Linked DNA regions of Homo sapiens: region 1 is linked to region 2. Evidence: fine-mapped expression QTL. A gene starts in region 2. The other region holds a variant in brackets. All regions are shown on one strand. Distances are from middle to middle.

Region 1 (17,576 bases), 360 kb before region 2:
CTCTTATTCACTTCCCATGTCTGTTCAGGGTCACACATCTAGTAAGTGGCTAAATTGGCATGAGAGTCTAAACACAATTCTTACCTTAGGTTTCTGCAACCAAGCAAAATTCATCTTCAAGAAACTCAATTAATGGATTACTTACTATATGTGTGCTGACAATTAAGGCATTTCTTTGGGAACAAAGTTATTTTAAGGAGCTTAAAGGTGACCTCAGGAATTTCCATGGAAATATTACATAAAATTTCTATTTTAAATAAATAGAAAAAGGACAGTTTCTTTATAGAGTGGGAAAGAAAATTTTAGACCATTCAAGGATCAGCAATCACAAGCATGAAAAGAAGTAGAAACGCTACCAAGTAACACGATATCTTGCTAAATGTGGGAAAATATATGAACCCTCTTTTCCTCTAGAACAGGGATTCTTATATTTTAGGTTGCACATAATCCCCCTAGGAACCCAGGTACTTGTGTACATACCAGAACGTATCTCTGAGGTCTGGATTACTTCAGTCTAAGATGGGCCTTGGGAGTAACAGGTGTTTTGATGCAGATAAACCACAGCCCACAAATTTGGAATCAATGACCCAGTCAGATGACATAGTTGAGACTAAACACCAAACTACTGAACATGAACTTTTGTCAGATATTTTTTATGTATTATAATTGAATCTCTTATAATTAAGGGCAACGAAGTAAGTCTTCGTCAAATTGAATGGATTCTTGAAACTGTTCAGTGATGAAAATCATTGTTCTTCAAGGGTCTCAATAAATTAGCTTAAATTTTTAAAATCACTTTACTATTAAAAGTTTTTTTAAGGCACTAAGTCATTCATTCTTTTATTTGCCAAGTTAGTATATTTAGAATGTAAGATATTGAAAGTGCTTAACTCCACTTCTGACTCTTCAGCCTAGACACATCAAGCAGTGTTAAATAATGTAAAAGAATTTTCCTCTCTCTAGCATATTTATGAATGGCTTACATAGGTTTTACTGGTAGAGTGATTGTCTAAATCATTGATCGAATAAAATCTCTCACTCTCACTCTCCCTCTGTCTCTCTCTCACACACACACACACACACACACACACACACACAGAGAACTATTCATCAAAAATCTGTTTTAATATGTTGGCAAATTTATACAATAGTATATTCAAAACTGTTTCCAAAATAAATGTTTTTCAAAACAAGAAATAACAAAACCATGTTAATATGGAGAAGAGGCAGAAGTGTGGGATTCCCGACCAAAGGCCCCACCTTCGAGCCTGGAAACCGTGACCCTAAATGAGAAGTTATCCCTGTTTTCCTGCCCAAAATGTTGCTTTATCCAAAATCACCCTGGCCCGCCATGCCCCCCACATCCTGTACCCATAAAAACCCCAAACCCCAGGCTCCACAAGCAAAAGAGTGGAAGAGTGACAGAGCAGCATGGCAGAGAAGGAGAGAAGAGAAGGAGCATCTGAACACTGAGAGGAGTTCGGCTGGGGATGGTTGGAGAGATCAGCCACAGGACAGCCAAACTCCAGGGAAGGTCATCTTCCCACTCTATCTCCTTTCTAGCTCCTTTCTAGCTCCCCATCCATCCCACTGAGAGCCACCTCCATCACTCAGTAAAATCCTTGCATTCACCATCCTTCAAGTCTGTGTGACCTGATTCTTCCCGGACACTGGACAAAGGTCCAGGTACCAAGAGCGCAGGGTGTAAAAAGCTGTCACCCTGACTCTCCACTGAGCTGATTAACACTTAGCCATCCCTAGACAGCAACTGCTAATAGAGCATTAATTGTAACACACCCTTAGACGCTACTGTGGTTCCAGCGCCCAAAAGTGCCCGCCCTGGCTCCTGCACCTGTCCATTTGAGTGTTCCCCCTCCCATAAGGAGTTTGAGCACCAGGAGCCAAGCAAACTAGCCACACCCCTGTCGTAAGTCCCATAAGGGGGTCAAGGAACTTTCCTGTTTCAATGTCACCAAAGCAAATTTTTAAAAAACCTTCACACTAATCATCTAGGTTATAGAATATTAAAAATGACATAAACAGAATAATTATTCTTAATATATACTCTAATCAGTTTTCTTAGTCACTTCTATCTTTAATAGCATGCCAGTGGCATTTTTTGAAGATATTGTTTCTAATATGGTGTTATTATTTTGAATTTTTAAAATAAAATTATCCGTATTCTTATTCAAAGTTTCATCTTATGGTTAATACATTCAAAAGTGTTGACACTTGCAATTGACTTTTCTCTGCATAACACTTATATTCTGAAAATACTATCCATACAGGTACTGAAGTATCTAACAAGCTATAAAATACAGCAAATGTATGATATTTTCTAATTTTTCTCTTATTAAGTGATATAATTAACTCCAACATATGTCATAGCTCTTGTATTTTTGCCTACATTCAGAATAACGTTTCAAAAATATTTTACAAAACAAAATTTATCAAGTAATTTGTCTTATTTATTACTTGTTAATTGTTTTACCAAATTTACAAGCTGTGAAATTATGGCTTTTTAAATTCTGTTCCTTCTTGGTACATAATATAAGTTTATCTCTTTTGAAACAGAAGTTTCATCAATACTCTCAAGCTTCAACTTTGGGTGTCAGAGTTAAATCTCACTTGAAGTTGGAACTCTTATTATATAATTTGTTCAGTCCTTTCCTAGTTTAATAGGGATCAATTTCAATATCTCCCTGTTTGCAAGCTTCGTTTTCAATAAGTGAAATTCACTAATAACTTCAGGAACAAAAGTTTTGTCAATCTTTACTGATATTTGTCTAAAGATCTCCAACTAGTTCTAAACAAATGCAACCAAGTTTGACAGAGTCTACCATAAAGTTCAGTAACATGAGAGGACACAGGTTTGATTTAGAAAATTTTTTTCAAAGTCTTACTCACTTCTAAAATCTGATGTCTGGCAGCAAAACATACTTTTATTTTGATGTATTCTTTTGTATTTAACATCAATTGTACAACAAATAAATTTCTAGGCAATTTGCAACTTTGTATACATAAAATATTTTTAAATTTTCACAATATACCTCTCTAAATACTATTATTTTTATGTCCAACACAAATAATTTCAAGAAATTTTTCTGCTAACAATCAATCTCTTAATTTAGAAAGAACACTGCTTTGTATTACTACACTTATCCACCAAAATTTCTGTTCATACTATCTCTACAAAACAAATATAATTTTATTTTCAGTATTAAACTTTTTAATTTGTAATGATCAAGTGTTTCACATTTGATGGGATAGGCTGTTAAAAATTACTTCAGTTACATTAATTGAATGAAAATATTGATCCGTTTGGAAAATCAGATGGCAGTGAGATGAAACTGGTATCTTTTAACTGATTGCAAAGTCCTTCAGCTATGGAGCCAGCACATGAATAGCTACTGCTTTATTTTTTGTTTGTGCACAAGGTAATTTTAATGGTTAAATAAGTAAAATTAAAAAAAAAGAAAAATATATATAAGTAAAATAACTTAAAAGTCTTTTAATCTGAATAATGATGCATTTCAGAGAGTGCATATGCCCTCTGCAGTTGCATGTGTTAGATCTCCCCTTTGAGCATGAATATCTTAAAATGAGTACAAACTTTCGAAATAGATGCTGATACTTCTTCAGCACACTTATTCCTTCTGGTTTTTGTGCAATCAGTAATATCACTGATCTTCCCCCACCCTGTGAATAATATAAGTTGATAAACATTTTATGCAAATTATATGTTTAGCATAAGTTTTATTCAAAAGCAAATCAGTACTTAGCTTACTAAATATGGAGTTATTAATTTGGTGGGGAGGGGCTCATGGCATCCTGATGATTTTATGCATCTTGCAGCCTATTACGTAGGCCAAGCCAAGGTTTCCTAGTGTGCCGTGTGGCTGCCAGGTTCCATTTTTAGATGATCTCCAATACCCCCTGTCTAGAGAGAATTAGCCCCCTTTAGGCTCCGATTGTCTCAGCAGACATCATTTTACCAGCAAGTTAAAATGCATGCTGTGTACTGCCTCAGAAGGGGATGTGTTAGTTGCATTTGTCTAATGTCTCTGAAAGGGATGTGTTGGTTGGATTTGCCTGAATAGGATAAGGGGAGGAGAGAAACCATTATGTATGGACATCTTTTACATTTAACTTTGTGTTACAGGGAGAGCTCCCTTCAGTGAGCACACATACCTCACACTACTACAAGAGACCCTGGAAGAAGCCAGAAGTGTAAAATAGGGATCTACCAAACCTAACCCCCTGTATATTTTAACACTAAAGCAGTCATTGTCTGGGATAGATACCTGAGGTTCCTTGCCTCATGCCAGGGAAATTAAGGACATGGAAACACAAAAGAAGTGAGTTGAAGAGCAGAGGTTTAATAGGAGCAAGAAAGAGAAAAGAGAATAGCTTTTTTCCTTGCAGGGAGAGATGGGTGCCCCAGTGGGTCTTCCGTGCCCCTGGTAAAGTGCACAGGGTTGTACAGATTGGCTTGAGGAGGTAGTGCCTGATTTACATAGGGCCCAAAGATTGGTTGGACCAGGTGTGACGCTTACATAGTACTGCGAAGAAGCTTGTCACTCCACCCTAATCTTTTTATTATGCAAATGGGTTTTGTACTTGGCTGGCGCCATGTTGTCTGCTCCTTACCGTACACGTGGTTAGCAAAGAAAAGGGAACATGGAACCACCGTTTTGAACATGCCTAGTCCCCAGGTAGCCCCTTTCCTATTGGCACAACTGCTGGCATTTACCTGTGCAAGCTTCTAGCTTGCCTTTCCATGACTGCAGCTTGATTTTACAGACTGCTTTTTGTTAGAAAAGAAAATGATTTAGGAGCTGCTTTTCTTTAAAAGGAAAACCTTACCGAGGACTTCCTTATCCTCATAATCTGCCCAAATAATGCCTTGTTAACTCCTGTATCATTACCATTATTAATAATCTTCCATTAAAAATGAAAAATCAGACAAATGCAAACAGGACCTATGGTGACAATATTTTTCGACCACATCTCCATTCCCCACTCTACCTCCATTCACTCTCCAGCTTGCTGATGCTTACATAGTATTTACATTTTCTGGCTCAGTTCCTCCCCTTCCCTCCTCTCTTTTCTTTTCTTTCCCCCTCCTCTCCCCTCCCCTCTCCTCTCCTTTTTGACAGAGTCTCGCTCTGTCACCGGGCTGGAATGCAGTGGTGTGATCTCGGCTCACTGCAACCTCTGCCTCCCGGGTTCGAGCGATTCTTCTGTCTCAGCCTCCAGAGTAGCTGGTATTACAGGCACCACCACCACATCTGGATAATTTTTATACTTTTTTTTTTTAGTAGAGAAGGGGTTTCACCATATTGATCAGGCTGGTCTCGAACTCCTGACCTCATGTGATCCACCCAACTTGGCCTCCCAAAGTGTTGGGATTACAGGTGTGAGCCACCACGCCCGGCTGGCTCCGTTTCTTTTAAAATGTATGCAAAATGATCTCATGTGAAACAGAAAACTTTGGTGGCATGTCTAAATATCCATGCTTACTTAATCAGTATTACCTCTCTTAATTAACATCTTTGCTATAGAAACAATATTCTCTCACACTGCACAACTTTTCTGCTTATTTCTAAAACTTGACAGGAGGGACAAGAGAAGTTCTCCTTCATTCTAGTTTGGCTGTAGCTTCTGCAGCTTATCATTGCCAGAGGTTTGAAAAATATAGAACCTTTGGCACGTCCTCAGTCTTACTAAATTCAGTGTTCCCAACAGTCATTTCCGTTTCTAAAAAGATCCACAGGTAATCCTGATGCATAAAGCAAAGACTGTGTCTTCCTGGTTTCTGTAATGTAAATCAAGACAAGTTGTAATTTGGGGCTTACTGCTGTTAAAATGAAGAAAGAACATGCCCAAGAAATGAAGTTATTATGATTCATGGATATTGGGGTGCCTGGGTGGTTGAAAATGTTTACATAAATAGTGCTAGAGTTGTAGAATGTCAAAAAGAAGGCACAATCTGCAAGAGATAAACATCAATGCTTAATTTGCTAATTTTTTCTAATTGTGTCTTGGGGAGGAAGGAATGTAAGTTGTTAGGAAGAACGGATGGCAGAACTGGAGTGAGATTTGAAAAAAATGTTCTAATAATGAATAGAACGTTTTTTGTTGTTGTTTTTTTTTTCCACTGAGGCAGGCTTAAGATAGAGCCAAGCTGCTTCCATCATGTTGCTGAAAATTATAACATAAAAAATGTTTTAAGATTCTGAAAGTCAAACTAGTCTGTTTTTTGCTATTTTATCTTGGGTTTCTGGAGTCTATGACTATGAGAACATGGGCGAGACATTAAAAAGGAAGCTTATTTTCTATTGTTCTCCCGAATAAATCCTATTACTGTACACTATAATGTATACCATATGTTAAAGAATTCCAGTCAATGATTCTATTGCAGATTCCACACTGAGGGATTAAATTATATAATCACTAGTAAAAATGAAATTTGAAAATATTTAATAAACTATCATGTAAGCTGTTAATGTTAAATACAAGGGTTTATATACTTTAGCAACTAATTGAACATCTGATTCATGATTAGGAATGCACATATTGCTAAATATCAGGACTCTGAGACGATTAGATTCAGTTTAACAAAAATAATTTGATGGAATGAGATGATATGGAAGTAAATGGCATAACTAATAGAGCTAAGGTAATGAGCAAGTCTGGAGGAAACTGACAAGTCCTGTAGCCTCTTTCAGACATATGGCAATCCTATAAGTAAACTTACGATGTTGCCATTCTTAGAAGGTTTAGAAGTTCTGGACTCATTCACCCTGTCAATTAATCTTATGACTAAAATACTTATCCTGAGAACTTTTTTTGTATCTTGGAGCATCAAATTGAATTGAAAATACTCTGAACTTAAACTCCTCAGCTTATACTTTTAAAGGCTTGCCTTATTCAGATGTCTGACATCGTGGAATGGGGAAACATCATGGACTTCAATGTTCGACTTCAGAGAGTTTAAATTTTATTTTGGTCACTTATTACATTTCATGGGCCTGTACAAGTTATTTAACCTCAGACTCAAAATTATCTGCTATAAAGTAGTGTTAACAGCTCCTAACAGGATTGTAGAGACTAAATAAAATAATACTAATAGAGGACTACTCATTAAACAAATGCTCCTTTCCTCTATCTTTTCTTATGGTAGATTAGGAAAAGTAAATATCTTCATATGATTTGCAAAGTCAGTTTGCATCTCTCCGATAGAAGTGGTGAGTAATTGACGAGTCCTATTTTTAGGGCTTTCCCGAGAGAGAGAGAGAGAGAGAGAGAGAGAGAGAGAGAGAGAGAGAGAGAGAGAGAGAGAGACAGAGACAGAGAGAGAGTGTGTTAAAGTCCTTCCAGTAAGCATACATTACATGGTATCACTCAAGATCAATTTACAACATTAATAATAGCTGTATGTTCTGTCATCATGTATTAGTGCTCTGCAAAAGAAAACTGGACTGGAAAATTAGCAGGGTTAAAGAATAAAGTGAAGAATAAAGTGCCTTGGTTAATAATGCACAGAGGCCCTAGAAATGTAATCGCCCAATGGGTTCATTGCCTGCTGCCAGGACAGAGCCGATTTATCAAGACAGGGAAATTGTAATAGAGAAAGAGTTCAATTCATGCAGAGCCAGCTGAATAGGAGACTGGAGTTTTATTATTACTCAAATCAGTCTCCCTGAAAATTCGGAGACTGGGTTTTTTAAGGATAATTTGGTGGGTAGGGGGCCAGGGAATGGAGAGTGCTCACTGATCAGGTCAGAGATAAAAATCAAAGAGCCTTGAAGCTATTCTTGGCTGAGTCAGTTCTTGGGTGGGGGCCACAAGACCAGATGAGTCAGTTTATCCATCTGGGTGGTGCCAGCTGATCCATGGAGTGCAGGAGCTGAAAAATATCTCCAACACCAATCTGAGGTTTCACAATAATGATGTTATCCCTAGGAGCAACTGGGGAGAGTTCGAATCTTGTAGCCTCTAGCTGTATGACTCCTAAGCCTATTTTCTAATCTTGTGGCTAATTTGTTAGTCCCACAAAGGCAGCCTTGTCCCCAGGCAAGAAGGGGGTTTGTTTTAAGAAAGTGCCGTTATCATTTTTGTTTCAAAGGCAAACTATAAACTAAGTTCCTACCAAAGTTAGCTCAGCCTGTGCCCAGGAATAAACAAGGACACCTTGGAGGTTAGAAGCAAGATGGAGTCTGTTAGGTCAGATTTCTCATTGTCTTAATTTTTTCACTGTTATAATTTTTGTATAGGAGGTGTCTGGAACATTACCTGTCTGGTAACCACTCCCACTTTCATTGGCACAAATTTGTATCTTGAAAATATCTGTATTTCTAATAGAAAACCATTCACAATCACAGTGAGGTAAACCCAAGAGAGAAGAGAGAGAATAGACAGAATTCAATTTACTCAAAGAAAACTGAACTTCACCACAAAAGGATCTTTTCTCATTTGGGGGAATTATTTATTAACATTTCTATTATTAAACTCATTTTTAGGCTAATCCTATAAATTCACATATATTAAAGCATATACACATATTTATGTATCATTCCTTGGGGAATCATTAAGCTCTTCTGACATACTAAACAACTATGTAAAGATTAGCAAAAAGTCTCTTTTCTTTGCCATTACTGAAGAATGTGTTTTACCCACTGAAAAGTCTCTAGAATGTAGAATCAGGGTCTTGAGAATGTTTATGCCTTAAATTTCCTAATTTCAAGCCAGCAGAGGGCTCCCTACTGTAACATGATTCTGTATATGTATACAAAATTCTGTGAAAATTGTTGTTAAGGGACAAAAGCAGGATTCAATATATGTTATAGGCTTACGTATTGTCTATAACTATGTGTTAAATTAAGAAGTATAAAAAGAATGAAGCAAAGCCAAACCCACTTCTGATACTTGAGATAGAATGTGTTGCTTTTTCATCATGCAAAATTTAATCTTCCTCTGCTGTTCCAGTTTGAAAACTAAATATGCTTCAATTCTGTATCCTCAGTTCACATAGACACCTGCAGTCTGATTCTCTTAATACTCTATATTTTTGTCCATTCAAAGATTAAATAATGTATTGCTAATATGAGATTATCTAAGTCAGGCTCCTTAACCCAGTGATACATAGGCAAAGCTCAATGAAGAACAGCATTAGTTTTTTTTAGTACATGTGTCTTTGATTATTTAAATTATTAAATTTTATTATTAAATTATTAAATTTTAACTTGATTTCAAGAAATATTGGATAAATGAAAAATAAAGATTTTTTTTTTAACTTTTTCCAGTTCTCATTCTTTGGACTTCATCCTGCTTATCCCTGTCAGTTCCCTCCTAACGAAACACTTGGTGGATTTTTACAATCCCAATGAACAATGTACACACAACACCTTGGGTAATTTTATTTAGAGAATTAACATTGTTCTGATAACTTTAAATAATGCAGAATTGCTGCATGCTGCCCAGTCTGCCAAAACAAATTGACCAAGCATATTAGAGAAATGTATGACAAAGTAACCTGTTGAAAAAACTAATTCTGACAAATTCTGTTCATTTTTCTTTCAGTGATGTCTTTTTTCTTTGAGACGGAGTCTCGCTCTGTCGCCCAGGCTGGAGTGCAGTGGTGCAATCTCCACTCACTCCAACTTCTGCCTCCCAGGTTCAAGCGATTCTCCTGCCTCAGCCTCCAGAGTAGCTGGGACTACAGGCGCACACCACCATGTCCAGCTAAATTTTTATATTTTTAGTAGAGACAGGACTTCACCATGTTGGCCAGGATGGTCTCTATCTCTGGACCTCATGATCCGCCCACCTCAGCCCCACAAAGTGCTGGGATTACAGGGGTGAGCCACCGCGCCTGGCCTCAGTGATGTCTTTTTCTGGAATGCAGCTTCTTAGGTTATATGGATTGCAAAGGTAACTGTGGCCTTAGGAAGACAACCAATGTAATACATTTTTATGACTACAAACATGTATCTATGCATAATTTTAGCAAACATCAAAGGAAACATTGTTTTC[A/C]AATTGATGTAAAGGCAATATTCCTTCTTGTTTTTACTGTTTTTAAGTTTCATCCCTTCTTTTTATACTTGTCATATAAGGCTATCAGTTAATATAACATCATTATATTTGAAATCTTTTTTTAATTGTAGTAAAGGGGGGAAGTAACCAAAACTGACTTTAATTTTTAATAGAAAATAACAAATGTGAAAGGCAAACAATAGTAAATAAGTAATTTTACTTTTCATTGAAGAAATAGTTCATATAAGCATTACATAAAATAATTACATTTTAATATGCAGTCATAATATGCGTGTGGACAACTCATTAAAAGAAGAGAATTATGTACAAATTCAGGTTATTTCCAAGGGTGAGAGGTGAGTTGTTTCATGCTTCTAACTCCCCAGAAAGCAATGCAAATGGAAAAAACAATCTGAAGAAATAAAACACAAAGAGAAAAAAAAATTAGAAGTGAATCAATACTATTGCTCAACTGAATTAAAAATATTTCCCTAGAGGAAAATGAACATGGACATTTTAGGGAGTCAAGTTATTAAATTAAATCTAGCAATTGTTCACTGATAGAACTTAGCCAATTTAACTTAAAACATGGTGTGTGAAGACAGGAGCAGGAGTTAAGAAGTTTTATTTCTGTGGCTTGTTTCTTATATTCACAAATCTGGGTCATTTCAAGGAATGAGGCTAGACAAGTTAGATATTCAGACATTTCTTCTGACATTTGGAGATACAGCATGCTGTATGCATTATACTAGATGATCTAATTGCTTATATAGGTTAAGAAACCTTTGGAATAGGAGAAGTAAAAACACTGTTAAAGAATCCCTCCAAGTCAGTATGATCTAGCTTACTATGAATTTCGCCCAACGTGAATTAAATTCTAAACACTGCTGATGATTTACCTCCTCAGTCTTTTGATTTTATCAGGTGTAAAAATGTAACTGCAAATTTCTTTCACACTGAAGACTTAACTGAATCATATTAAGCAGCCTGAAAATTTCATTGAGTTTGTTCAATCCAGGCTCTGGTCATGGTCTTTGCACCATCAGATTTCCCAAAAGTAAACACTTCCCTATGCTCTTACCTAGGCACCGACAATTAAAACTATAGGATTGCTTTCCTGATCACCATTTTAGGTGGTTGGGTAACTGGAATGATGATGAAAGCAAACAATGCCAAAACAACCAGAGTTATTGGGATAGCTGTGCAGGAGTTTCTCTATATTTTTCATGTATGTGTATACTTCCCCTCCATACTATTAAAATAGGACCAGATGCCTCTCCCCAAGAAGAATATCACTATACCTGGAAGATTCACTGAAATATACAAAGAGAGAACATTTAATTAAGAAGATGAAGGCATGGGAGCATTCTGGTGTGGGGAACTCCGGTGAAGTCAAGACTGTTAACTGAGGACAGCTGTTAACTCACAGAAAATACCTTGAACTATGCTGATTTTGCTATTAAAGCATGAATGAGGAAAAAACATCACCAACAACCAAAATACAAATGAGCAAAAAAAAAAAAAAAAAAAAAAAAAAAAAAACCCTCCCAAACAAGGATGTTTCCATTTATGAGTGGGTTGTTCAGTTTCATATGAACCTCCTGGATCTTTCTAGAGAACCATCATCCTTCACATTAGTCAGGTTGATGGACTTCTTCAAATTCATGCATTCCTTTTAGCCTATAACACCCACAATATGAAAAAATACTAAAAATAAAATCAGCAGTTATATTGAAGGAGAAGTCAAGAATAATATTAACGTCTTGGAGTTGCCTCAGAAGTCAAATACAATATATTTAAAGGCTGGTTTTGATTTTGTTTCTTTTGACTGTAATTCAAGAGAAATGACCTCATGGCACTTCTTCTGATGGTGCCAGGTAAAATAATACTGCGCTGGGGGGAGTATTTTTGAAAGCTCTTAGACTTGTGCAATGAGTTGCATTTGTCCATGAAAATGGGTTAATGCTGAGAGGGGCGCTGAGAAGATAGCTTTTCAAGTGAGACAGAGATGATAAATCTATAATATCAGAGTAAATAATTTACTTTAGATCCAGAATATTCAGCAAGCAACTAATACATACCTTGTGTTGTGCAGGGTGCTGGAATCTAAGCTATATTTGGCACTAGAAGTCTTTATTGGTTACAAGGATGATCTCCCTGAGGGAAGGCTGAGTACAATTACTTCAGTGAAACCTCATAAGTTGTATATAAAGTTTTCGGAGTATTCTCATAAATCTCATAATTCTCCTCTTTTCCATTCTCAATTCCCCTAGACTATCCATACTTTCATCTCGACTTCCAGTACTATTAAAAATTTTTACCTAAATAGGAAGTGGAAAAGATTACAAGTCTAGTTATGCCTTGTTATTAATCCACCACTTTCCACTAAATCTTTCCACCTTTGAAACTGTGATTCACATCCTTTATCCTCTAGGACCTACCTCTAAGTAAATCACAAAAATCTTCCCTTTTCCAATTATCTGAAATGCTTTCAAATTCCTACCGAAAATGCAGTACTGAAGTTAGCAGTCTTATTTTTTTTTTCTTTTCTTTTTTTTTGTTTTTTTTTTTGCTTGCTTGCTTGTTTCAGGCTCCTATGTGTTATCCCTTCAAAGAGATGTACAACTGGTTAAGCCTAGGAGTCAGGATCAGATTATATTAATGTGCAATGAAGACCTTTGCTTAGGCCAGCACTGTCCCACATGCCTTTATTAGATTATGTCATCTAATTCTCATGACAAACTTTGGTGTACTGGTATCCAATTTGGCAGTGAGACAGTAGGAACTCAAAATTCATGTGGTTATACCAAGGAATCACAAAACTACTAAATATCAGAGCTAGAATAAAGTTTTACATTTACCCCAAGAAAATCTAACTGCAAAACCTAGGAAATCATTTCAAAGAATATGAACATCCATAGTGAATTCATTTCCTTTTCTGTAGTCATCACCTAGATTTTCCTAGTTATTTTTCTTCTTGTGTCAGTAACCGCTAGGCTTCTGAGACCTTTTCACTATCAATATTTTAAGAACAAATTTGGAATTTTTATATATAATAAAATCCAGATTGGCAAAGGATCATAGAAATAAAATAACATAAATGTGCCCTTCTAAAAATATGTGACTCTGAAATATTCACCATTCCATTAGAAAATATTTCAGTAGAAGAAAACAGAGTTAATTTTACACTTTAGAATATATGTGTTTATATATAAATATTACATACAATGTATAGATTCAAATATATATTGCACTATAATTTTAAGCCAGAAAATTATTTAACATAGAGTCAATATAACCACCTGATTACCGTAGTCACTCCATTTAAAATTTTCCTTGTCCAACTGTTCTCTTGATTTTTGTATTACGCCATTTATTTTAGGTCTCCTTAGTTGATTAGATTAAATATGTCACTTTACTTGATAGTTCATTAACACATTTCTCAAATATTTGTTAAATAAATACAGAATTCCTACTTAGGCTAGTGAAAGAATAGATGAAAACTGTAGACTTCTTATTTTGCAATATTTGTCTCTAATCTACATATATGATGTTTCCGGATACATACAAACTCAATGCACACTTATTGTATCCTAGTTCTAGGCAAGTCCCATGATTTTAACAGCTGGATTCTAAATATAAAGCAGAGGAAGTTCATTCTTAGTGTCAAGCCGTCCTTGTGCTAACACATCATTAGTGGTCCTTGTCTTCAGGCTATTTCCTTGACTTCCCAGGAACCTCAACTCTGATGCCTGAACTTTTGGCCTGTACAGATGCTGTCATGTTTCCACCATGCCTTTCCAAAAAGTTCATCAATTGGCAGGTGGCTAATCTGTCAGTAATCCATATTAAAATTTTAATGGGGACTGGTGTTTTATTCTGCTGCTCCTCTCAGTTATGTGTGTGTGTGTTTGTTGCTTTTGTTTTAAGAGACAAGGTCTTGCTATGTTGCCCAAACTGGACTCGAACTCCTGGGCTCAAGCACTCCTCCCATCTCAGCCTCCCTAGTTGGGCCTATAGGGACATATCATCTCACCCAGGTTTATGTCTGTGTTTTGAGAGGCCTTATTCAAAATGGCTCTAATGAAGAGGAAATCAAGCATCTAATCTTAAAGGAGAGAGAATAGTGTGCTTGTTGCATGCTCTCAAATTGCAAACCCTCAAATTACAAAGAAATGTGGTGGATTTGACTTATACCTATGTACATATCTGTCTCTTCTGGTTTTAATACACTTACTATATTTATCAATAAGCAACCAGAAGAGAAAAGAAAAACAAATATCACTTTGTGCAGTGGAAAGTTCCAATTACAACTAGCTAGGGATCTTCCACAGCCTTTGTGGTAGTGATGAAATAAGACTTTTCAAATAATTCAGCCTTCAGATAAGCTTACAAATAAAATGAAAGCTTTAATGTACTTGAATAATTATTCACAAGAGAAAAAAAATCTCTGAAATTGCTAATTTTTTTGGTCTCCCAAACATGTATTTATGTCACAAAGATTAAAATAGAAAACATTCATTGAGATATATCTTATTTAATTTTATATGGATTGCCAGCAGTGGTATGAATATGTATATCCCTGAATCACTAATAAGATGAATAAACATGTTAAATGAGCTAAGTCATTTTGCTGAATGATAAAGTCACTTACTCTACTTTGTAAAGGAAGAAATTTGAGTTACTTTAAGTATAAAATGGCATTTTCGTGAAGATGTCAGACTTAGTCATTTTACAACAAATTGAAGGGTTATTACTATTTAGTGAATTATATGTTTTCAGCCAAATATAGGTTTATATACTTATTTCCTAAAATTTCCCTAAAATTTTTAAGAATTAGAATATTAGAATAACTATTTTGTATTCTAAACAAATGTATACCCTGGCCCTAAATGGAAGAGTACATTTTTCTGAAAAATTGTTTCTGTAGTATCAGTGAGGTTTATAAAATACCAGTTAACTATTTAATAGAACTAAAACAATCGCAACAGTAAGAATTGATTTAAAGGAAACACATTAAATATGGAGTACTTTTTTCCTAAATTATTTAAAGAAAACTAAAGGTAATCCTTTGTTAAATACACTTTTTAACACAATGTTTTGGTTTTTTTTGAGATGACCATTGTCAGCTGTACAGATAAGAACCCAAAGAGAGATTAAGCCTGAACTGCTCCAAAATATCTCTATTTCCTATGAGCGCAAGAGGACAAATAAGCACAATGGAACTAGAATATAAATTAGAGCCAAATGTACCATAGCTCTTTAGGAACTGGAAACATCAGAAATACATTAGATAATTATAGATTTTTTTTCTAGAATTTTGCAAGAACCCAGTTTCACAAATGCCAACTTACAAGAAATTGAGAATTGTTTTCACTTTGAAAATATTCTATATATACAAACATATTTATTCATATTCAGAAAAAGGGAAAGAAAATGTTGAAGAAATAAATTACAAATACTGCATCTATGACTTTGAAATCTTGCATTATCTCTTTGTGCTTATTTCTATACCCCATTCAAGAGAGAACACAATCACAGCTATGTTTAATATGAGGCCTTTTAAGGTTTTTTCCTATCTAAATTTTAAATCAAACAGTATTACATTAGTTTATAAATATATATCACAGTTCTTAGCTGATGAAAAACAATGTAAAAAGAAAGTTCATGTGAATGACCATGTGATAACATCACCTTATTGAAAAGAATATCAATAGTATCAGAAGAGGTTTTTGTGTGCTTGTTGCACACCTTATTGAAAAGAATATCCTTCAATCAATAAGTATCTACTGATACTCATTTTCTAACAGGAGAAAATACTAAACATAACGCAATCAAGTTTTAAAAAGATAAATACAAAATACACATTAAAACAGAGTTTTCACTGCTCCAGCTGAACTCCGAAAATGGAAACATCAGATTTTCACTATTTTACTATTTAATGGGGGCAAAAGACACTTATAATTAGAGTAACAAAAAGTACTAGCTTAATTTACACAACAAATGCAGAATCTTTCATTTCACGCATTATTTCAGTTCCCTAATTTTATACAATTATTTACTCACTTCTAAAGGTCTAAACTGCCTAAGAAAGTGTGCATCCTTTTGGACACTACTACAGAAGAGAAGCCTATGGTTCATCCAGACCGCATTTCAACTATCACGATAACATTTGAAAACCATAAATATTAGCCACAAGATTAGAGATCATTTAGAGGTCTCCAGAGCCTACCCATAATTCAGAGAATATACTTTAATACGGTTGGCATGAATTAGCTACTGCACATGTAAACCCATCTGGTTAAAATTGTATAAACCATAGTTAGCATAAAGTGAAAATAGATGCTACCTTTCTCAAAAACATCTGTGAATTTTTAATCTTTGATTTGGAAGTTATGAATAAAGTGTTTTTAAAAGATGGCCCTAAAAATTCCAATATTACCAACCCTTGTTCTAAGAGAATGACAACTCAATAATGTGGATTTTTAAATTGTCTTTGAATAACTACTAGATTCTTGCCTTTCCTTATAAACACCGACACACTTCTATTTACATTGTTTTCCTGGAGAATTTCTAAATATTTTGATACACATACTCTTGATGTTCTGACCTAACTTCTCAATTTTTACCAGCTTAGATTGTTATATTTTTAGTTTAACTTTGTCAAAAGGTCAGGTACATAGACACTAGCATAAAGTGAAAATAGGCCGGGCGTGGTGGCTCACGCCTGTAATCCCAACACTTTGGGAGACCAAGGTGGGCAGATCACGAGGTCAGGAGATCGAGACCATCCTGGCTAACATGGTGAAACCACGTCTCTGCTAAAAATACAAAAAATTAGCCGGGCTTGGTGGCGGGCACCTGTAGTCCCAGCTACTCGGGAAGCTGAGACAGGAGATTGGCATGAAGCCAGGAGGCGGAGCTTGCAGTGAGCCGAGATGGTGCCACTGCACTCCAGCCTGGGTGACAGTGCGAGACTCTGTCTCAAAAAAATAAAGTAAAATAAAATAAGGAAATAAATAAAGTGAAAATAGATTTACCACAACTAACACACAGAGAAAACTTAGAGACAACCAAACTTGATTATGTCTGCGATTTATAAATCATGAATCACAAATTATGCCTGTGATTTATAAATAATGAATATATTCATGGGGTGTCCAGAAAATGTGCCTTGTTTAAATTGAAGCTTGAATTTGTAGTTTTCTAATCATCCAAGTTCTTAATGCTACAGAAGAGTGACTTTTTGGACTTTTTCTTAAACACTACAGGGCAGAAACAGTAAGGATACATAGAGAGAGGGTTGCAATAAGGTCAAATTAATAAAGGACCAAATATCATTTGTGAGAAGAAACATTTGGAAGAACACTGACCATCATGTTGGCATAAGTATCTTAGTAAAGGTGTACTTTAGAGAAATAATCTTTTTCCACCAATAATCTTCCTCTGGTGCTCACCATGGAACCTCATGTTCTTTACTTTTTATGGATATGAGAAGAAAATTTTTTAAAAATCAGGGCTATAAAAAACTTTTAAGA
Region 2 (13,841 bases):
ATGTGATTATTTTTCACTCATTAACATTTAAGTCAGTAGCAGGATATTTCACAAGTTTTAGATACGTTTGCTTAAACAATAGATTTGGTAAATATTTTGTTAAATCAAGTTTAATTTTTTTACAGTCACATATGCAACTAATTGTTAGAAACGCAGATTATCTGCATGATACACTGTGTTTATCTAGAATACATAGACATATATTTTTATAAGTAGGACTAGTATCTGACTAGGAAGTCTGCCTACTGGATTTCAGAAGAGCAAAACAGATGTAAGCCTGTCCAGAATCTGGTTCTTAGGACAGATGGACTTTTATTACAGATCATGGTCTGTCCAACAGGCTTGTAAACAAGACATAATATTGTCCATCGTTAATATTTTCCTTGAGATAAAGGTTTGAAAGAGGCAGCATGTGTCTTTTCTATCAACATGGTAGGCACGCTATTAATCTTTAAGGTACCTGAAATTTTATGTAATCCTGAAATTAAGATCCTCAAAAAAAAACATGGTTTTTCTTCAAAGTCTGCACACAACATTTCTATTACATGAATGGCGAAGTGGAAAAACACGTTCGCTTTGATTTCCACTTCTTTTGTCAGAGGCCACATGCTTATTTGGAATTATTATCCAAAGCATAATTCTTCACAAACGAATTAGCAAAAGGCATACTACCATTTGTCTTGCAATCACCTATTTGAAGGACGTGGCAAGCCCCTGTTGCTAGTGTAGAAAATGAAATTAGTCCCTGGGAGAGGATCCGATCATTGCCGTGTTAATCTAACCCTCAGCTGTTAATGATTTGCACAGGGATTCCCCTTGATGCTGTGGCTTCAACTGAAATATTGTTTTAAGAATTGATGTCAAATTCTTCCTTTTTTTTTCTGAAAGGGGATTGAGAGGAATGGATCCACAGGCTCGCTTTTCCTTTTCTGTTTATATCTGGGTTTGGGATTTTTTTTTAATAGCAAAAAATAAAATAAAAATATTTTTCACCATAGTTTTATATAACAAAACAAAAAAATGCATTTTCAGATAATTTGCTTTACTGGGATCTTTCAGACAAGGCTGTAAAAGAGAAAATTCCTTGAAAAACTTTTTAAAAATCCACATTTCATAATTTAGAATTGTTCTTTACATCTACAAGGAAGAAAGGAGTAATTTGCTATTCTCATTTAAAATACTTTAGAAAAATATTCTCCAAATTAAAGTTCATAACCTTTTACCTTTCTCTCAAAGGGCACCAGAGTTAACAGTTTGTGTTAGTTTAAGGACTGTTATGAGTAGTGGGTGAAGGAAAAGAACCTCATGTTCTATCCCTGAAGGACTGGTTTGTTTTGGTTTCTTTTTTTCCTTCTCTCTCTCTCTCTCTCTCTCCCCCCTTTCCCCTTTCTCTCTGCTTTTTGGGGTGTATTTTTTGTAAAAATATCTCTTTTATTCTTGTTTTCCTGTTATAACTCTGTACCTTTTTAAAATAACACTGCTAAGCAAAAATATTGTATTGAGGATACAGTTTGTATTTCTGGTACTTACAATGTTATGATAAGAGAACAATCTAATTTCATTTGGAACAAAATCAAACTTTAAAAGGTAAAAAAAAAAATTCTGAAGAGTTCATTCAATTTGCTGTCAAATTCATTGTCAAAATGCTTAACAAATGCATTCCAATTCAGTAAAATATATGACCCATAATCGTATATACAGGGCAATTTTCAGTTATTGGGTGACGTTTATAGTTTATCAATAATCTGATTTCCATAACCTATACACTTAACTTTCTGAGAATGAGCTAAATTAACCAACTGGGTATTTTTAAATAACTAAATCTACATCTAAATCTATATACCCTTGGGCATGTTGAATGTTTTTCTTGTTCATTTCTGCTTAAAGGGGACAAGTATTATAATAAAGGAAATTATCTATAATTGTAAATTCTTATTCATGATAATCTGGGAATTAGCTGCAAATTTCTGGAGACATTATCTTCTTCTGATTTCAACTGCAAAATGCAACAATTACAAGTAGTTTTTCAGAGTAAATATTATTAATATTACTTCTACTATATACCTAATAATGCACTTTTCTCAAACACTTATTGAAAAAATTTTACTTTTAAGTTTACTTTTATTTAAACTATTTTATGTAATATATGAAATTATTCCACCTTTTTTAGATATTTAAAGTTTTAATGTTATTTTTTAAAAATCCACCTTAGCTTCCCACTGGGCGGTTAATAGAAACATTCCAAAGCAATGAGCACCAGTCAGAAGTAAAGCTCTTAAAACAGGACAAGAAGAAATGGGTGGGAAGCTGGAATGAGAACATTCATCAGCAGCTCAAAGCACAGACTTCTAAGGGAATCTTTCCTCACCCTCTGCCTCTTTGGTAAGCCCTCACGTGTTGAAGATGACTTCCATTTATTGGTCTTTCCTCTTCACACATTATAATGTACTCTTTCTAAAAAATAGTAGGTCATTTATATCTTACTATTATTGAGTCCCAATATCATCTAATTTTATCATCAACATAATGTTACAGGAATATTACTGCTTTTGGGGAAACTACATGCAACAGACATCATTCCAGGCACAGGAGCTAAAACTATTAAGAACATACACCTCTTGCTCTCAAGTTGTGTGCAAGCTAGCAGGAAGGGCTGAGAGAAAAACAGGTAAGCATCATGTCATGTGATAATTCTAGATCTGGGATAAGCACACAATTCCATGGGACTGTAGTGTAGGAATGCAGGAATGCCTAACATAAGGTTGGAAAACAGATAAAGCTTGCTGAAGAGTGTGATGTCTATGCTTAGACCTAATGAATGAATCTGAATTGGCCTGGATGGCTTTCCAGGCAGAGGGAAGTGCCTGTGGCATGTGGACAATGGCAAGTAGTAAAGCATGACAGGATAAACATGACAAATAGACAGGAGAGTGGACGATCCAAAAGCAAAGCCAGAGAAACAATGTTCTCTATAGTTCAAGACAGGGATTTTTACCTTACACTTGAGGCAATAGAGAGCCAGTGAAGGGTTTCCACTGGATTCATATTATGGAAATGCTTGGCTGCAAACGGGGTTGTACTAGAGCCAGACACCAATTAGCAAACTATTGTAGTTATTCAGAGATTTGTGTGACCTGCTCTAGGGAATGGCTACACCCGAGACAGCTATTCTTTCTGAAGCTGGAAGAGACAAAACACAATTTTAATAGAGAACCAGACCATAACTCAGAGTTGGAACCTCAATAAGGCAAATGAAGCACTCATTTCAAAGGGATATCAACAGAGTCAAGATAAATAATGTTTGCGGTGATTTTTTAAATAAGTGCAAAAAATCAATGAAGAACAAAATATCAAAATTTTAAATAATGACATGAACTGAATTTTTTGGGAAAATTTGTGTAAATAAACTAATTCTCCCATGCATTGGGTTCCTTTGCCCCTCATACTTAGGCAATTTCAGTTTTTATGCTCAGCGTTGTTGACCATCTAACTCACCTTGGAAGTCGAGACAGAACACCAGCTGAGATTGACGTTAAAGCATCATCCAGGCGACCTGGTGGCTTTCCTTTGAGAATCCAGCTGACAACAAGTTCAAGCAGCATCAAAGAAATGAAAAATGGAGTTGCCTGGAAAGGAAGTTGCAGAAAAGAGATGCTATTATGTTCCATATGAAATTATTTTACATTTCCTGATTAGTCATTTCAGAATTGAAAGGCCCAGATTTGGGAAGCCCTGCAGGAGATGGTAGACACTCATTTTAGAGGATTACTTCCTACACAGTGGTAAAGAAGTCTAATTATTTTAGACATACACTAAACATGTGCTCAAATTCTATCATCCAATTTGAATATGAAATGTAATCATAGATATAACCACGATAATTATAATATTATAAGATTAAGAGGAACATCTTCCAAATTAGTTTAAAAAATACATTTAGAATAAGGTAGATAATTAGAGGTCTATTGTCTCTACATGTATAATTTAGACCCACTTCAAGAGGCTTTCCTTAAAGATGCACATAATTCTAATTTTTCATATTAGACTTACCAGAACTATTTCTAATGATGAAATTCAAAGAGTAGAGACAATTTTCTGCTTAGAATTTTAGAGAATATGGTAATTTTACATGTTTGCTTAAAACATGATTCAGATTTTATTCATTTGGTTTTGATTTTTGTTTCACATAATAAGAGATGTTTTGAAAGCTCCACTATTGGTGATGGAGCATTGAATTTGGTTTGATATTGCAGTATAAACAATAATAATTTATGAAGATATCAGTGCCACTTTTTTTAACTTAAAAACTCAGAAAGAAAGTGTAATATCTAATCTTGAAAAAGATACGGATTTTACTCATTTGGAAGCTAATCATGAGTTTTGAAGCTTTCTAAACTGAACTCTCAATAACATATTCTATGATGTCATTTTTTTTCTATTTCTGCCATGAACTAGTGAGTGTTGTAGGAATAACTTTGATAGGGTGGGGAACTTCAGTATTCAAGTTCTAATTCTGGATATTTCCACTTCCAATCATAGCCAGGAACCAGAAGTGAAATGTGCCTCTGAGCACTTCAGAGTTTCAAAGAAAACTTGGGTCAAATTCAAACTTAGGAAGTCAGAGCTGGACCTGGTCAAGCTGCATATCCTTCATTCTGCTGAACTACTCTACCAAATGAAAGAGGAAATAGTTTCCCTGGAAGGGGTGGACAAGTGAAAGATTTAAAAATGAAATTGTTACAAAGTTTACTGATGTGGTGTAACTATTTGTCATTGAGCTTCCAATAGCTACATTTACAATGCCATGGAGTCCAGGAAAACTTTAAACTTTTGTTTTTGTCATATTCTGGAGTGACATATAAAAGAGGGAATTTACAGGTGAAGATGGCTATGGATTGTAAGAAAATTCAAGTGGAAATTCTACTTTTGCTTCACGCCTTTAAGAAACTGAATTATTATTATTAGAATGTAATCATTTGAATAATGAAAGTGAACAAAACCCTAAGGAGATTGACCTTACCATTTATTAAGAAAGCAGCAAGAATAAGAGTAGCCTCTTCCAATAAAGTCTCACCTTTTTTACATAATCAGGCACCTCTTCTAATGTTTGGAATGAAGTTTCACTGGGTTTCATCGTGTAAAACAACATGCGAAATCCCTGGGAAACTGAAACATCCTGCTGGGCTTCTGGGTTCTTCATTTCTGCCCTTGTCTGATTCCCAGCTGGAGAATATTTAGGATTCAATGCTTGAAGCCTGAGGCTGAACAAAGAGGACGAGATGTGCAGCTCAGAACAAGCTCTTTGTCAGAGAACAGCTAAAACCAAAGCTCCACTGAGAGCACACTCAACAGCCGATTCTGTGTAGAGAGACAGGAAAATACAAGGATCAAGAACAAGTACAGAGTTCAGTGGGCGCTGGGCCAGAAACAGGGCATGTGGGGGAGGGAAAAGAGGACTCATACCCAAATCAAAGTCATACAGTGCAGTTTGACTGTAGGTGGAGCAAGTTACTACTTAAAAAAGAAGAGAAAAAACATCATAATAGTGTCTCGGAAAGAAAAAAGTGATAACGCAGGTATATGTTCACTCTGAAAAACTGGATAGAAATTCAAGCATCAAGTCACATAGAAAAACCTTTTTTTCTCCTCATTTAGAAATTTACAATGTGTTCAAGCTTGTAGTTTCTTTATTTCCTACAGAGACTGTGTATAGGCGAGCTACTTAATAATAGCTTGAAAGTCAGTAAGCACTGAATATCTGGCTCCTTATTGCCTATCTATATTTCTGTATCTGAATCATGTTATTACCACTTCTGAATGTTTGCAACCAGTTTAGGGGCATTTGGCTTATTACATAATCTACATTATTTAATGGAAAATTGGCTAGTCACATCTTCTCTATTCTTCTTAGTACTTATGGGAACTTTCTGATTAAAGAAGGTGCCAAGATGTTGCTGTGAGACCTGTTTCTGTTTTACAGAAAGAGCTTAAGTGATTGTACCTTTTAAGTAGATTAGAAGGCACTTAATTTATTACATTACCAGTGAATATGTGGAGCTTGCCAGAATAGCCTCAGCTCTTTACCCAAAACAGCTGTAATCATCCTTTAGCTGCCATTTCATCATTTAAAGATGTTTACATAGATCTAATTAAAGTATCAATGCACGATTGTTTTAGAAAAATATAGAAACTATAGATAAGCAATAATAAGCTGCCCAAAACGCTATTAACATTTTGGTACATGTATGGTCAGTTTTGCTATAATGTGATATATCCATTCCTAAAAATCACTATACTGTACAAAATTGTGCAATAAAAACCACGGGACTTGTGAGAAAAAATGTGATTAGGGTAAAATACTCAAAAACTTCATAATGACCCACAAGGAACAAGAAAAAAAGGATGAGAGCCTAATAAAAATGGTAGCACACTTTCACACGTTACATGGTTAAGATATACATAAATACTAAAATAAATATGATGCTTTACCTTGAAAAAGACCTGAAACTTGTTTTGGAAATTAGGCATTGGAAGATTTGCAAACTGCAAGTTACTTTAGCTTGTTGAAATGTGGGTTATCTGAAATCAGACAGAAAGTTGCAATATGACATATGGGTGTCAAGGCTCACAACACACAGGTGAAGTGAGGGTGTTACTATAAGTGGTGGGTGTATTTTGTGCATCCTAAGCCTTTCTGTTTTTCAGTTCAGTTTTTTAAAGTTCAACTACTCTTTTTCACTGAAAATAAAATCACACATGAGCATAGGCAGTATGCTCAAATTATTTTCTGGTATATTAATCACATTGGAACAAATTTAATCTCAAAGCACATGTTATAGCAGAATTGACTGTCCTTTCAGACCATTCCCATTACCAATAAGTACATATGGACATTAATTTTTAATAAAGGTGTCTGGGCGTGGTGGCTCACACCTGTAATCCCAGCCAGTACTTTGGGAGGCCGAGACGGGCTGATCACCTGAGGTCAGGTGTTTGAGATCAGCCTGGCCAACATGGCAAAACCCCGTGTCTACTAAAAATACAAAAATTAGCTGGGTGTGGTGATGGGCACCTGTAGTCCCAGCTATTCGGGAGGCTGAGGCAGGAGAATTGCTTGAACCCAAGAGGTGGAGGTTGCAGAGAGTGGAGATTTTGCCATTGCACTCCAGGCTGGGGGACAGAGCAAGACTCTGTCACAAAAACAAAAAAAAATTTAATAAAAATGATCATAGTAGGCATACTGTTTTATTACCTGCTTTCAAAACAATTTTGGAAATTAACAATGTGATACAAGAGAAAAAAATACAAACAATATAGCTGTATATAAAGTCAAAAGTGGCAGCATCCTTTCTTCTCAATATATGCACACCTTGCACTTCACTTCATAGGGATAACATATCCTCTTGGTGGGGTTTTTTTTTTTTTTTTTTTTTGCCATATCTGTTTTTTCCTAAAAGGGATAGTTATTATCATTATTACTATACAAATACGTTTCTATATACACATAATGGTTCGATTTTGCAATGGACCTTATCAAACATAAGATACAGCAAGTTCCTTCTTGGAGTCAATAACTTACCAGGAACATTTCTTTTTTAGTATATGATTATACAGGTACAGCCTTTTCTTCGTTGTTTTTACTGGCTGCAAAAGTGTGTGTGTGCATTTCAATGAGCAAAACAAAATTATTTCTAACTTTTTAAAGCAGAAGCAATTTTATACAAGAAAAAAGTTGTTACATAGATGATGGGAGAAGTAAAAAACCAAGCAGGAACAAAGAGGTAATCTAGAGATTAGTACCAATAGGAAGCCACTACCATTGTTAAATTGTAGGGACAAATGGAGAAGGTTGTATTAGTAGGGCCCAGGGGCTATGGTCATCTAGGAAAAGTTAGAACCACCATTGGCTTGTCTAGCAAGAGTATTTCCCATGGAGCAAAGCCAATCAAAGCCAGAAATAATACCCATGGCAGAGAGGGAAGAAAGGGAAGTACTATGGCTTCTCCCTTCTTCCTGCCCACCAGTCTCCCAACAGTACTTCCCATTAGGCTATGACATGGTTGGATTTGCGTCCTGGCCCAAATCTCATGTCAAATTGAAATCCCCAGTGTTGGAGGAGGGGCCTCGTGGGAGATGATTGGATCATGGGGGTAGATTGCCCTCTTGCTGTTCTCCTGATAGTGAGTGAGTTCTCAAGAGATTGGTTGTTTAAAAGTGTGTAGCACCTCCCTCTTCTGTCTCGTCCTCCTGCTCTGGTCATGTAAGGCACACCTGTTTCCCCTTCTGCAGTGATTGAAAGTTACTTGAGGCCTCCCTAGCAATTATTCCTGTACAGCCTGCAGAACTATGAGGCAACTAAAACTCTTTTCTTTACAGATTACTCAATCTCAGATTGTTCTTTACAGCAGTGTGAGAATAGACTAATACAAGCTAAATGAGTCAAAAGCCAGTTGACAGAAAAAGCTAGAAAAAGAAGCCTGCTGAAGGTAACCTCTTACTACACACAGTGCTGAAGGAGAAAGGGAGGGAAGAATCAATCTATGGAAAAAGTCAACCAAGAACCAGCACACCATCATAACTTATTTAATTACTCCTCTATTGTTGTGTGTGTAAACGCAGTCTTCCATTTTTAACTAATAAATTTAATGCAACAATAAACATCATGGTATAAATATTTATACATTTTGCACATTTTTTGTTACATAGATTCCTAGCAGCGGAATTATGCTATGAAGATGATGTAAAATTTACCCTTTGATAATTACTGCCGAATTCCCCTTTCAGATTGCCTTCCCCTCCACACTCTTGCTAACACTGGCTATTATTAATCTTTCATAATTTTTAGCCAATTAGTTAATGAAAAAATGGTATCTTGTTTTAATTTGCATCTCACTAATGACACTGAACATCTTTCAGTACATTTATTAATGTTTTTTTGCTTCTTAATCTGAAATTTATTTTTTAATATGAGCTGCACATTATTTTATTTCATTGTCATTATTGGTTTATAGGCCATTTGTATTATAAATATATAATTCTATGTACAGTATATATATTCTGATATATGTGACAAGTATTTTCTCATTTCATATTCACTAGTTATCTATATGTTGTCATACTGCAATTGTAACTTTGTGTGTGCTGTTATCCTTTGTTACCTCTGCTTTTGGATCTTGCTTATGAACATTTCCCTTGCCAGAATTCCGTAAGAATAATCTTCTGATTTTTTTTTTTTGGAGCATTTAAAAGATTTCTGTTGTTTCAATTATCTGGAATTTAGTTTTCCATATGGTATGTAGTAATTATTTGACTTTTTACCTTGCCTTTATGGATCACAGTTCTTGCCACACCATTAGTCAGTCAATACTTTCCCCACTATTCTATGTACCTGTACTATTTCCAGGCTCTTCATTCAGCTCTATGGATGTTTTTATCTACTCTTATGCTAGTACCATGTTGTCTTCATTATTGTACTGTCATAATAAATTCTGGTAACTTGTAGAACAATTTATCATGCTTGAATTTTATTACTCAAAAATATGAAGCTGTTTTTACACATTTGCTTGTGTAAATGTTTAGACTAAACTTCAAAGCATCCTGTTGGCATTTTAATTGGAACTACATTAAATTCATGGATTAATATGGAAAGAATTGACATCGGAGACACTCAATAAATTTGTTTTGAATGAATTAATGTATATACTAAAATCATTTGAACTTAATTCTATGACTAAATCATGTCAATGCTCACTTCCAACACTTCTATTCCTTATATCTTCCATTCTTTTTTTTTTCCTTTGTACTGTTACAGATTGCACAAAGTTTTCAGGACAGTACATGTATAATTGCATACCTTACTATAATTTTTTTTGCTTATCTATGTGAAGGATAAGTTGGCTAAATATACACTTTTTGGTTCAAATAGTAATTCTTTCAAAATTCAACAGAGACAGAGCACTTTGGCTGAAGACCTGTTAGGTGAAACCAAGGTGGACAAAACACAGGACTTTGAACCTTCACATGAACCAAAAAGAGGACGCTTGTGTTAGTCCTTTTGAACGCTGCCAATAAAAGACATACCTGAGACTGGGTAATTCGTGAGGAAAAAGAGATTTAATGGACTCACAATTCCACGTGGCTGGGGAGGCCTCACAATCATGGAAGAAGGTGAAAGGCATGTCTTCCATGGGCGGCAGGCAAGAAAGAGAATGAGAACCAAGTGAAAGGGGTCTCCCCTTATAAAACCATCCGACCTTATGAGACTTATTCACTGTCATGAGAACAATGGGGGAAAGCGGCCCCATGATTCAATTGATTCAGTTATCTCCCACCAGGTCCCTTCCACAATTTGAATATGAAATGTAGTCATAGATATATCTACGATAATTATAATATTATAAGATTAAGAGGAACATCTTCCAAATTAGTTTAAAAAATACATTTAGAATAAGGTAGATAATTAGAAGTCTATTGGGACTTCTAAGTTGTGGGAGCTACAATTCAAGATGATATTTGGGTGGGGACACAGCCAAACTATATCAACACCCCGGACATTTTCGGATGTCTTCTTGTCTGAGTAACTCTGACAAGATCTGACAAGATCTGACAAGATCTCTGCTCAAAGCTACCTAGTCAAAGGAATTCTGCTGGGGATTCCCTTTTTTTTGGGGGGGGGGGCGTCTAATTCAAGGGAAAATGCTTGAGAAGAGCCTAATATGAGTGTCAGACATCCCATGAGAATGTCTTACATGAGGAACTATTTACTCTCAGTATTTGCATTTGCAAATCAATCAACACAAAAAGACATCAAAAGATCTTTATTGAAACGACATGAAAGAAACAACTGATTAGGAACCTCTGGTGATACTGATAAAGGTCCAATTTTGAGAGAGAAAACACAGTAATTTGAATAGGAGAAATTTAATATAAAGGTTTGCCAGCTGTAACAGGTAGCTGGCATTATAAGGGAGTGGCTAATAAAAGTTAAGAAAACTCAGAAGAACATAGGAATAGAAGACAGAAGGGGCAGCCACTACTCCCAGGGCTGGACTGGGGAACTTGCTTTAAATCAGCCCTTTAGGATGAAAAAGGACAGAAGACGCTGCTCACCAGGAATTTCTCACTAGAGGCACTTTCCTACAAAACCACTTGAAGAGGTGCCAGGTAAGCTACTGGCTGCTATGCATTTCAGGAACTGGGCACTGAAGAATCTGCCTGTGTTACAAGACCCTGCCAAGTGAGCATGTAGGAACAAGGGAGGAAAACCTCTTCCTTTAACAATGACTGTCTGCAGCCCACTCCTGACAAAGCTTAACGTCATGTCAGCTAGCAAAGAAAAATATTGAAAGGACCTATTTCCATTTCACAAATCAGGTAATAAAGTTTGAATTTGGAGATGAGAGGCAATAAACCTATAATTAGTACAAGACATAACACTCTTTAATAATTATAAAAAGTCTTCATCACAGTCTCTTATTTATATAACACTTAGCTTCAATGTTTATAAAATTGTAAAAAATGTAAAGGCTTTTCTGGGAAGTGTTTATGTAAGAAAACCAGAGTGGTAGAACCTCTATAATTATAGATCTGCCTTTTCTTTTGGCATCTAATATTTCAAAATAATATTAAGTCTGAGTTCAACTTGCCTTAAAAAAAAAAGTCATTCATTTCTACTTCCTGGGTGCTTGTAGAATATTTTTGTGCCTTTGAAATTAAATCATTATAGTTTTTTATATTTTGGGTAGAATATTTTTAAGAGGTGAGCGTCCTTAAACCTCAGATTTGAATCTTCCTTTGCTTTAGGGCAATTTCTGCCATTGTGTTTGTGCCTATTATTTATGTTCCATTGATTTTTTTACACTTCTTCACAAATGAGATTTATCTGTTTACCAGATACCATTTGTCTACCATATCCATTATATTGTCTGTGTCCATTTTCATCTCCTTTTTATTTTCTGATATTGTCTTCTTAAGTCTATACTTTGGGTATAGTTTTTTTTGTTTTTCTGTGTTTTTTTTTTTTTTTTTTTTTTTTTTTTTGCTATTTTCATCTTCCTTCTGGGTCTACTTCAAATTTCACAATGGCATTATTTGTTTTCTTAAATGTTTTCCTAAACTCTCTCAGTCTTCCTTTTGTATTTATTTCTTATCATATGGCCTCATTTTTTCTTCAGTTTTTTTTCCTATTTCACTTGCGTGTATACAACAGTTCTGCCTAAAATTATTCTTAGTTTCCTGGAGATAATACTCAAAAGCATGTTCTTTATCAACTTTTAATAAGCTCTTTCCCCTCCTTCACTCCCAATTTGTCTTATTGTGGATGGGTACGGGTTCTTTATGCTTCTTTTCCCCCCAACCAAAAAAACAAAAAAAGATGTGGATGAATAGTCCTTGGGTCCACTCCAGGTATACGTGGCACTTTGGAGTTTAGGTCTGTCTTATCGGTTCAGCATGAGATGGTGGAGGATAGAGCTATCACTCAGCAGCCCCAGCTATCCCAGCAGGCTTTTACAGTGAATTAGAGCTGCCATGGCACGTATCAGCTTTCCTTATTTTGATTTTGTTCTCCTTGGCCTCTACTCTTTCTATAAACATACAAAAGTACCATTTGAGATCTTCCTATAATTTGTATTTGTTGAAGCTGGGGTAAGTCCAAGGCCTAGTGTTTGGGGTAACCCAGTCAGAAAACATGGCTTTTGCTTTTGGACAAATTGACAATTGTGACAAATGAGAATTTGTTTAGAAGAAAGATTCTCAATCCATGACATTTCTAGCTTGTAACAATTGCTATAACTCCCCCACTTTGGATGGTAAATTTCTCCTCAGCTGTCATTGGCCCTCAAAGCCAAAATGACTCCAATTAGAATGTATCAATATCACTCATAGTTCTCCCCACCAGTACTGACCACATGCAGATTACAGGGTTCATCCATTACAGCAGAGGAAAGAAACTCTTTTTTTTTCTTTTTTTTTTTTTTTTTTAAAGAAACTGGGTTGAAGAAGTAGTTCATTGAATGGTTGTCTTACAACCAAGGATTAAGAGTAACATACAGAGATGCATTTCAAGGGGAATTCAAGAAAGGAAATCCTAACGTTCTGCTTGATGCTGCCATATTTCCAAACTTTAACTCTCCAAATGAGGGGACATATGGTTTGCTAGACTGTACTCTTGAACTGGTGAAATCCTTTCCTTCTCCACGTGTCTTTCTCTTTAGTCATTAGAATCATTTACTGGGAATTAGACTGGAAACCTACACTGACATGATCATCTTAAAAAGTTTGTTTATATCTCTAAAAGTATAAAATAATATATATTTACTGTAGAAATATAGAAAATGCAGAAGATTTTTAAGAAAAAAAGCACTCATAACCACACCAATCAGATTGTAGTCTCATCAATATTTTAATGAACATCTTGTATTTAGGGTCTTTTTCAGGCACATTATTTTACATAGAAGAGTTCATACTCTATGTGTCATGTGAGGTCAAGCTTTGTAAAATTTGGAAGCCACATGATGAAAAGACAAAGCCCCAAATTAGGTGTCTGAGTCTCTGAGTTACTACATAGAGAAGAGCAGCCCATCAATCAGGTCATTATATGAGCAAATACCAAATTTGTAATGTATTTTGTGTTTTATTTGTTATTATTTGAACCTTGTTCACCTAACGGCTAACAATCTCCTAACTAATATATCCAGAAAACCATTGGAGGGTTTTGAACAGAAGAGTCACATGGTCCAATGCATTGTATGAAATGATCATTTTGCTTTTTTTGTGAAGAATGGACTTTAGAGAGGTAGGCTGGAAGCAGAGGACTCTTCATAAATAGTTGATATAGTTCA

Which allele goes with the higher level. Positions count from the first base shown, and alleles are read on the strand shown. Sizes are in standard deviations (SD) of each study's normalised expression.
With allele C in place of A in region 1, the expression in hippocampus of the gene that starts at base 5,370 in region 2 is lower (moderate effect, 0.41 SD a copy in GTEx).

Evidence for each region. PIP is the estimated chance that this variant, and not a neighbour inherited with it, causes the effect.
Region 1: its variant is fine-mapped to the expression of AGMO in hippocampus (GTEx, PIP 0.98).

What each region holds. Positions count from the first base shown.
Region 1 is chr7:15,190,910-15,208,485 of GRCh38, forward strand. It overlaps AGMO (alkylglycerol monooxygenase), which reads right to left. Exons shown (of 13, transcript NM_001004320.2): 13 at 9,408-10,450. The coding sequence ends at 10,376. Among named protein-coding and RNA genes, the nearest start is that of DGKB, 300 kb to the left of the region's middle. The variant A/C (reference allele first, on the strand shown) is at 10,039.
Region 2 is chr7:15,556,646-15,570,486 of GRCh38, forward strand. It overlaps AGMO (alkylglycerol monooxygenase), which reads right to left and starts at 5,370. Exons shown (of 13, transcript NM_001004320.2): 1 at 5,075-5,370; 2 at 3,496-3,626. The coding sequence starts at 5,200. LOC124901591 (a long non-coding RNA gene) reads left to right here and starts at 2,212. Exons shown (of 3, transcript XR_007060217.1): 1 at 2,212-2,382; 2 at 2,536-2,668; 3 at 3,451-3,555.